Regions from separate parts of the Homo sapiens genome. Here regions 1 and 2 are each linked to region 3. The links come from fine-mapping of genetic effects on gene expression. A gene starts in region 3. Each other region holds a variant in brackets. All regions are shown on one strand. Distances are from middle to middle.

Evidence for each region. PIP is the estimated chance that this variant, and not a neighbour inherited with it, causes the effect.
Region 1: its variant is fine-mapped to the expression of HDAC11 in cerebellum (GTEx, PIP 0.95).
Region 2: its variant is fine-mapped to the expression of HDAC11 in whole blood (INTERVAL, PIP 0.96).

The regions. Positions count from the first base shown.
Region 1 is chr3:13,067,284-13,070,037 of GRCh38, forward strand. All of the region lies in intron 1 of IQSEC1 (IQ motif and Sec7 domain ArfGEF 1), which reads right to left. Among named protein-coding and RNA genes, the nearest start is that of IQSEC1, 4.8 kb to the right of the region's middle. RefSeq lists enhancers at 2,459-2,538, 2,549-2,718. The variant G/C (reference allele first, on the strand shown) is at 1,141.
Region 2 is chr3:13,385,023-13,387,776 of GRCh38, forward strand. It overlaps NUP210 (nucleoporin 210), which reads right to left. Exons shown (of 40, transcript NM_024923.4): 6 at 1,253-1,385. Among named protein-coding and RNA genes, the nearest start is that of NUP210, 34 kb to the right of the region's middle. The variant T/C (reference allele first, on the strand shown) is at 1,644.
Region 3 is chr3:13,479,051-13,481,804 of GRCh38, forward strand. HDAC11 (histone deacetylase 11) reads left to right here and starts at 1,256. Exons shown (of 10, transcript NM_024827.4): 1 at 1,256-1,299; 2 at 2,196-2,344. The coding sequence starts at 1,298. HDAC11-AS1 (HDAC11 antisense RNA 1) reads right to left here and starts at 1,003. Exons shown (of 2, transcript NR_046690.1): 1 at 593-1,003. RefSeq lists enhancers at 612-671, 1,321-1,977 and a silencer at 1,132-1,621.

The DNA of each region.
Region 1 (2,754 bases), 410 kb before region 3:
TCAGTAGGCTTTTGGGGGAAAGCAGCAGGCTCTAAGGTAAGCCTGGGAGCAGCTTAGCCAGCACCCAGGAGCAACGCCTCCTAAGCCCCCACTGGTGGTGACAAAACTGGTCTGGTCCACAGGCATTGGGTGGGGGGCTCCCAGCCACTGTGGGACAAGTACCCTCAGCACCCAGGACAAGCAGGCTGGGGGCAGCCATGCCACAGTGGCAGTGACCAACACATTCCAGGTAGTGCATGCAGTGGGGAAGGGGTGGGGAGGGACAGAGCCTTGCGGCCAAGAGATCTGGAACCTGCTCAGGGTAAGGCGTCAGGTCCCCCAACACCTGGGCCCCCTGACCACCCTCCTTCCCTTCCTCATCCCATCTCTGTGCACTGGGTGCCCACTGGCCCCACCCACAAGGGCACACAGATCTGGCTGGGGAGGAGCAGGGTCTGGAGTCAGGCAGACTCACTGGCTGTGACCCTGAGCAAGGCACTTCCCTGGAAAACAGGATGGCACACAACCACCCTGCCAGAGTTGTGGGATTCAACAAGATAAGGCACTTTTGTTGTTATTCTTAAAGACCAAGTGAGTCAGTGCAAGGAGGCAGGCCAGGGCCCTGAGGAGATGGTGCCAGGTCCTTTAGGGGCACAGGGGGCCTTGGGGGGCTTCAACAAAGGGCCTCCAGGGAGGGACAAGGATGGCGTGACACTTGTTGAGCTTGGGGCCCAGCCTGCTTGCTGGCCCGCAGGCAAACCCTGGAAGGGGAGTATCAGCCCCACCACATAGAGCAGGAGGCTTAGGCCCAGTGCCTGTGCTTGGGGCACTTGGGAAAAGATGCTGACCATGGGCTGACCAAGGCCCAGCAGGGTCCTGCCCCGGGGCTGGGGCCAATCCAGGCCTTACGCTTCCTCTGAGGCCCAGGGAGGATGTGGATGTCGGACCTGTCCTTCACGGATCCTTTGGTGGAAGATGGTGGCAGGTGGGTCAGAGGTAGGTGCTTGCCTAAGCAGACGCTACTTGTTGCCCTGCCTGTCCAGCAACTACCAGAAAAGTCTGTTCCTCTCAGTCTCTAAAATTCACCCCAGACAGGGTCTCTAAGTCCCAACATCATGCCAGGCCATGCCAGCTTTGGGTATACAACGGGGAGCAGGCCTG[G/C]GCCCTGGCCTTGCAAAGGGGCAGAGGCAGTGGCCAGGCCTCTGAATTTTCAGGCCCCAGGCTCATGACACCCCCTCATGGTTGGGAGGCCCCAATGCAGTTCCCCAACCTCTTTAACCCCCAGTCTTTTCTTCATATCTTTAGCTTCCAGCATGACGATGTGACTCTTTACTCCAGGGCCTCCATGAACAGCCCCAGCCCCTTTACCTCTCTTCTTGGTCCACTCTGCTCCAGCAACACCATCCTCCCTCTGTGGCCCAATCCTGTCAAGCATGCCCTCACCAGGGCCTCTGCACTTGCTGTCCCCTGCACCCGGGGCCCCCACTCTTCTCCTGGATAGTTCCTCCTAATCATTTAGATTTCTGTTCAAAGGTCACCTCCTCCAGGAAGCCCTCCTCACTTCCTGAGTGGCCACACAGTTCACTCAATCCATTCCCATTGGGCTCTCTATCTTCTTCATTTCTCTGTGTCCTTCTCCCCTGCAGTATCCCCTGAGAGCAGCACCCTCTCAGTGGTTCCCAGCACTGAGCTGGACATACAGCAGGTGCACCATGAACACTAGCTGAAGGCAGGGAAGTGAAGGCCCAGGCCTGGTTATGCGGCCTTGGCTGCATATCCCAGTCTTTCTGAGTTATAACCAGGACCTGCCCAGTGGCTTCCTGGGGCTGTAAAGGGTGGATAGATGCTACAGCATTCTTGGAAAATAGCCCAGTGCTGTGTGGGTCATTCATAATAACCATTTTTAATAGTGATCACTGCATGGCAAGAAAGGCTACCGGTCATCACACGTGCTTGAGTGAAGACTGGGCCTCCGGTTCCCTCCCTGCATCTCTCTCGGTGGGCTGGGGCTGCTCTTCCCTGGCATCCAGCCCAGGCCCACTGTCCAGCAGATGCTGATAACTGTGCCTGCAGAACTGACCCAGCCAAGGTGATAATGGTGAAGGCTCAATGCACAAGTTTCTTGGAGGTGTGTGTGTGTGTGGAATGTTCCAGGCCCAGTCCCACCAGTGTCCCTTCTTCTGTCTAGGGGAGACCCACCAGGGCTTCGCTTCCTTCATGAAGGCCCCACTGCAAGCAGCAGGTCAGGGCATCCCACCAGAGGGAGACCACTGCCTCCTGCGGGGGCCGGCAGGTCATCATGTCCCCCAAACAGAAGGAAGAGAGGGGTCGGGACAGTTCCAGGCAGTGAATGAATGATTGAACAGGCATGGGTAGGCGAGTGCTCCACTGGCCTGGCCAAGCAGCCCACATCTCACACACCACAAACTCCTCACAGCCTCACTTCCTGTGTTCAAGTGACAGGATGTGACATGCCCATGAGGACAGAGGGGCCCCTTGCAGAGATGATGAAAAGGATGCTGTAGTTACAGAATTGAGGGCCATCCTTCATTCAGACACCATTCATGAAGCTGCCAGTACAGCAATGACCTCAGGTGTTAGCAAGTTTGATTCAGGGTCTGATTCTTGGAAGCCTCCTGATGTTCCCCCATTGGGTTAAGAAATCTTCTCCTGCTTTTGTTGTCATCCTTTATCCCATCCAGTGTGCCACCTTCACGATGGACTGAGCCCTGACCGGGACAGAGTCTCGATTCCATAAAGCTCCCTTGGGTGCAC
Region 2 (2,754 bases), 94 kb before region 3:
CAAGAAACATGAGTTTGCTTCTCTTCAACTAGGACCCCCTTGCCAGAAAGAACTGGGCCCAAAGGCAGGAGCGCCTGTCTTCAGTTTTTTTGTCCTCCTGAGAGAAAGCGTTCTGCCACACAGGAATGACCAACCAGGTGACTGCTCTCAGTTGAGCAGGACTTTAAACAATGCAGCACCTCCCATCAACTGGAGACACCACTCAAGTTGCTCTTATGCTGAAGTGTGTATCTGCCTGCCTCTTAAGTGACACCCTGTATCACAGGTGGAACCAACCTACCAACCTGGCAAACTCACCTGACTGAGGCCCTCGGATGGACTGGACCTGAGAGCTCTTATGCCCATGACCCTTCAGGTCCTATGCTCTGGATGTTAAACATACACAGCTTTGAACAAAATGATAATGATCCTTAGGAGGACTGGCGCTCCATTGAGAACCGTCACTATCTAAACACAAGTACACAGTACAACTACACTCCTATTGATTCATTTTGTCCTCACAGCCCAGGCAGAAAGGCCTCAAAGCCTCCAATGAGAAACAGCCCTGGAGAAGGGCAGTGGCTTGTCCAAGTTTGTTCAGTTGTCAGTTGCAGACCGGGGCAAAGCCCAGCTAAACACAAAGCCCACAGCTCTGGACTTGCTGCCACTGAAAGGGCATATACCCCAAAGAATTTGAAAGCAGGGACTCAGATATTTGCTCACTATGTTCACAGCAGCATTACTCACAATGGCCAAAAAGTGGAAGCAACCCAAGTGTCTGCTGATGGATGAATGGGTAGATGAATGGGTAAACAGAATGTGGTCTATCCATCCACACAATGGAGCACTATTCAGCCTTAAAAGGGAAGGGAATTCCAACCCTTGCTACAACATGGATGAAACTTGAAGACATCAGGCTAGGAAAAAAGTGATATAAGCCAGTTACAAAAAAATAAATACTATATGATTCCACGTACATGAGGTAACCAGAGTAGTCACATTCACAGAGACAGGAAATAGAGTGATGAGTGCCAAGGGCTGGGAGAGGGTGAAGGGGAGTTAGTGTTTAACAATGCAGAGCTTCAGTTTGGGAAGATGAACGAGTTCTGTGGATGGATGATGGTGATGGCTGCAGAAGAGTGTGAATGTACTTGATGCTACCTGATGGAGCACTTAAAAATGGTTAAGATGGTAAATTTTGTTACATGTATGTAACCACAATAAAAAAAGGAGGAAGGAAGCATCTGTCATGATGGCAGAGCCAATGACACACCTGTAATTTTCCCTTGCCTGATCTTCTGCACCTTGTAGTGAATGGAGGTTCCCACCATCAGGTAGACGTCATAGGCCGGGTTCAGAAGGATGTTTTCCAAAATCAGCAGCCTGACTTCTGCAGGGCGTACATTCTTGGCATAAAGAAAAGGCAGACAAAGTGAGGTGCGGACAGGGAATGGGGAAGTGGTGGTGTGAGCAAGAGAAAGAGATGTTTTAAACATGGGAATAGGGAAGTTAAGAGGAAAGAAACAAGATATCATTCCCAAATCCTCACTTTCAGAACCCAGAGGTCCCAGGGGAGCTCCATAAGTATAGCAGGCACCCAGAAAAAGGGCATTACCCAGACTGAGCCCTCACACTGACTGCCCATTGTGCATGGTTTATCTCTA[T/C]GTGAAACCATGATTAAACTGGAGTAAAAGAGGAGAGCCAGGGTGAACTCTAGGGATGCTATGGCCACCGGGAGCTCAAGTTCTCTCCACACAAAAGCCCAAGGTCCAGGGAACTTGAGAAGCCCCAGGCCAACATAAAAAGCAGGAGAGGCATATGCTGTGATGAGCCTTGGCTGCTATTCCTTGACCCCTTCCCCTGCCCGCCTTTCACCCCCGACCTGTGACCTCCTGCCTCCTCAGGAAAACCCGTGGGCAACTTCGCAATGGGAGAAAGATCACTAGGTGCCCTGTCTAGTGCACCCTTAGGTACTGGATTCTCCAGAGGCCTGCACCTTTCATTGTCTTTGGCCTGTTTGATGGCAGTGTACATTGTAGAAAAGCGACAACACAGCAAATGATTCTTGTCCACAGAAACACAAAAACATTTCCTCAGGTGAAGGCGCAGCTGACTGCCCTCCTGTGGGTGTGGGCATTCTACATTTTTCTGAGTTCAGTTCAGCATGCCTGGTGTCCTGTGGCAACTCTTTGGATTCTCCTTTAAGCCTGCTGTCACAACTGACAGCTTTCCTCACTTAACAACTAGTTAATATCTTCAGTGTGTCCAAAACAGACAAGTGTATTGGGCACCACCATGGGCAGGGCTCTGTGGCGGCTGCTTTCCAGCACGCAGGCAGGGAGGGCCACTGAATGTCTATGGGCAGGACAGCAAGTCTGCCTTTCCAGCTTAGCAGTGTGGCTGTACCCCATCCCAGCCTGGGCCCTACACAGGAGCAAACTGTCTCTAAGTACTACCTGCAGAGTCCTACGGGATTAGCCCCTATAACAGGGCATGTCCCCATGTTTCCATAACTTTCCAGGACTCCCAGATGCAGCAAACCCACTACAGAGAGTGAATCAGAAGAGGATTTCTCCGTCTGCCACTTTACAAAATTAAATGGCAGGCCAAGTACCACAGTGTTCCTGCCTGTGCTCCAGACACTAGGCAAACAAAAATATCTCAGGGTTGCAGCTCAAAACGAGGCACTGGTTGGGTGGACATTAGTCCACAGGGACAGAGAAGGAACCAGGACGTTGGATAGACCCACTCCTCACTCTCCTTTCCTCTGGCATA
Region 3 (2,754 bases):
GCTAATTTTTTGTATTTTTAGTAGAGACGGGGTTTCACCATGTTGGTCAGGATGGTCTCGAACTCCTGACCTCAGGTGATTCACCCGCCTCGGCCTCCCAAAGTGCTGGGATTACAGGCGTGAGCCACCGCACCCGGCCCAGTACTTCATTTTCAGATGCAGACATGAAGGACCAGAAGGCTGAAGCAACCTGCCCAAAGCCACTATGCTGGCGGGTGGCCGAGTTTGGGTTTAATCCAGGCCCGAACCTCAGTTCCCTCAAGATAAAGTTGGGGTGATTATGGCACCTTTCTCAGGATTAGGTTGTGAGGCTCAGATGCCATCATGCAATCATGGCAGGCACACGGGGGCCCCTCTTCAAACGTCTGTGCGCTTCCCTTGTGCCCCGCCCTGGCACACAGCCGCCCCCGCGGAGCCCAGGGATCCCAGCCCGGCAGTCCTCCGTCAGCTGCTTCTGTTTGGATGGCGGGGACGGCTGGGCCGACAGAGAGGCCCATTGTCTCCGTCCTCTGGGGCTCTATTGTTGGGGCCTCCTCCTGGGTTGCAGCCCCACGGACAACCCCAGCTGTCGCTTGGGCCTGGCTCAGCTTACCCCGGCGGTGAGGGTGCGGGTCGGGGACGGAGACGCGTGCACCCTGAAGACAGTAACTAGGCCTGCTCTACAGAGGGAAACGCAGGCTCTGAGAGCCTACATGTCTTCGCCGGGAGTGCTTGTCCCGGAGCTGCTCGCAGACTGGGCCGGGGGTGGGCTCGGGTCGGAGAGGTCACGGGGCTCCTTAGGTCACAGGCGGCAGGGCCAGAGAAACTCCCCCGCCCCTACGTTTAACTCGCGGAAACAAGGGCCCAGAGAGCCCAGACGCCAGCCCAAGGTCACACAGCGAAGCCCCGGCACAGCCCGCCGGGAACCTGTCGTTTCTAACCCCCAGCCTCTCGCCGTTTCTACCCAGCTTGGGAAGCGCAGGAACAGGACATACGGTGGTCGCGCCCCTTCCGCGAGGCCGGGGTGAAACCCGCTTGGCCCTCCCGCCAGGGGGCGGAGCTTCCGAACCAGGCGGGATTCCACCGGGTATTTGCCTGCGGAGGCGGGACTTCGGGCTTGATGGGCGTTGGGGGTGGCCTTCCTGCGGGCAGGCTCTCTGTGTCGCAACACTGGCGGGGCGGGCCAAATCGGCCAGAGCTCTGCCCCCAGAGGACGCGGCTAAGCCCGGGGGCGTGTCCTGGGCTGGCCCCACCCGCGCCCCGCCCCGCCCCGCCCGGTCGCGGAGCTGCGGCCAGCTTTGGGAGGGCCGGCCCCGGGATGTGAGTGCCGCGGGGCGAGGGCGGGGGTGGGCTCCCAGGGGTCCCGGTGGGCGGGCGCGCTAGGGCGAGGGCGGGGACGGCCGGGCGGGCGCGCCAGGTAAGGGCCCAGATTTGCTGGTGAGGGGTGAGGGACGCTCGGGACGGGTGTTTCCAGGCCCTCCCGGCGCGCCAGGCCAGCCCCGCGCCCCTGCTCGGTGGCCCGAGGGACGCGCGCCGGCCGCGGGCCTGGGCCCGGACCCGGAGCGGTCGGGCGATGTGCGCGGGTCTGACGTCTGCGCTGCCCAGCCCCCTGGCTACGCGGACGCCCCCACGGAGGCAGCCACTGGGGCGGATTTCTGTCTCTGGGTGACGACTGCCAGGGTGTGATGGGAAGGGTTAGCAGCGCAGCGGGGTCAGGGGATCCCCGCCCCCCGCCCTGGCTCAGGTTGGGTCCCGACTTGGGTTTCTGAGTGCTTACTGTGCTCAGCTCCTCAGTTGCATTCTCTGAGTCCTCACAACAGCCACACATTTTGCAGCCGAAGCCTTGTGCCACACAGCTGTGGGGGCATTTATTACGGTGCAGAGGTGATGCGCGGAGGCCTTGCAGCCAGACACACCTGAGTGCACGCCTGCTTCTCCACAGACCTGCACTGTGACCTTGGGCACACCTGGTCTGCTCTCTGAGCCTCTGGTGCGATTGTGGTGCCTACCCCCAGGGCTGCTGTGAGGACTGGATTGGAATTGGGTTCCGGGAAAGGCAGCCAGTTTAAGCAGCTGTTGTTGAGGGGCCCTTGTCTGCGGCTGAGGGGCTAGTGGTGCTGGGCAATGGCTGGTGGGTCAGTCCAGGCGGGCTCGGGAGGGAGCTGCTTTCTGCCGAGGCTGCCCCAGCTGTGCGTCTGTCTTTTTCCACACGGTAGGCTACACACAACCCAGCTGTACCAGCATGTGCCAGAGACACGCTGGCCAATCGTGTACTCGCCGCGCTACAACATCACCTTCATGGGCCTGGAGAAGCTGCATCCCTTTGATGCCGGAAAATGGGGCAAAGTGATCAATTTCCTAAAAGGTATGGAAGGTCCCCCTTGGACTCTCATCTGCTTCCTCCAACCCACCTGTCCTCTCCGTCCTCATCCCCAACATAAGCCTCAGGCTCTCTCCCATCTTCAGTTTCAGCCCTCGGATGGCCTTCCACCCATGCTTCCGCCCAAAATGATTTTTCCAACACAGACTCCTAATCACGATATGATGTCCCTGACTCAGACTCTCCCTGGCTCCCCATCCTGTGGGCCTAAGTCCTGCCTCTGCCCAAGAGGCCTAGTGGAAAGGTAGCTGATTACTGATGGGCACAGGGAAGGTGAAGCTTGGAGGAGTCCATTTCCTAAGGTTCAGAGAGTCAGGAGGTAGAGCACCTCCACCGCACCTCTCTTGATTACAGATGGGGGAAATTGTGTCCTAGAATGATTAGGAAACATGTGC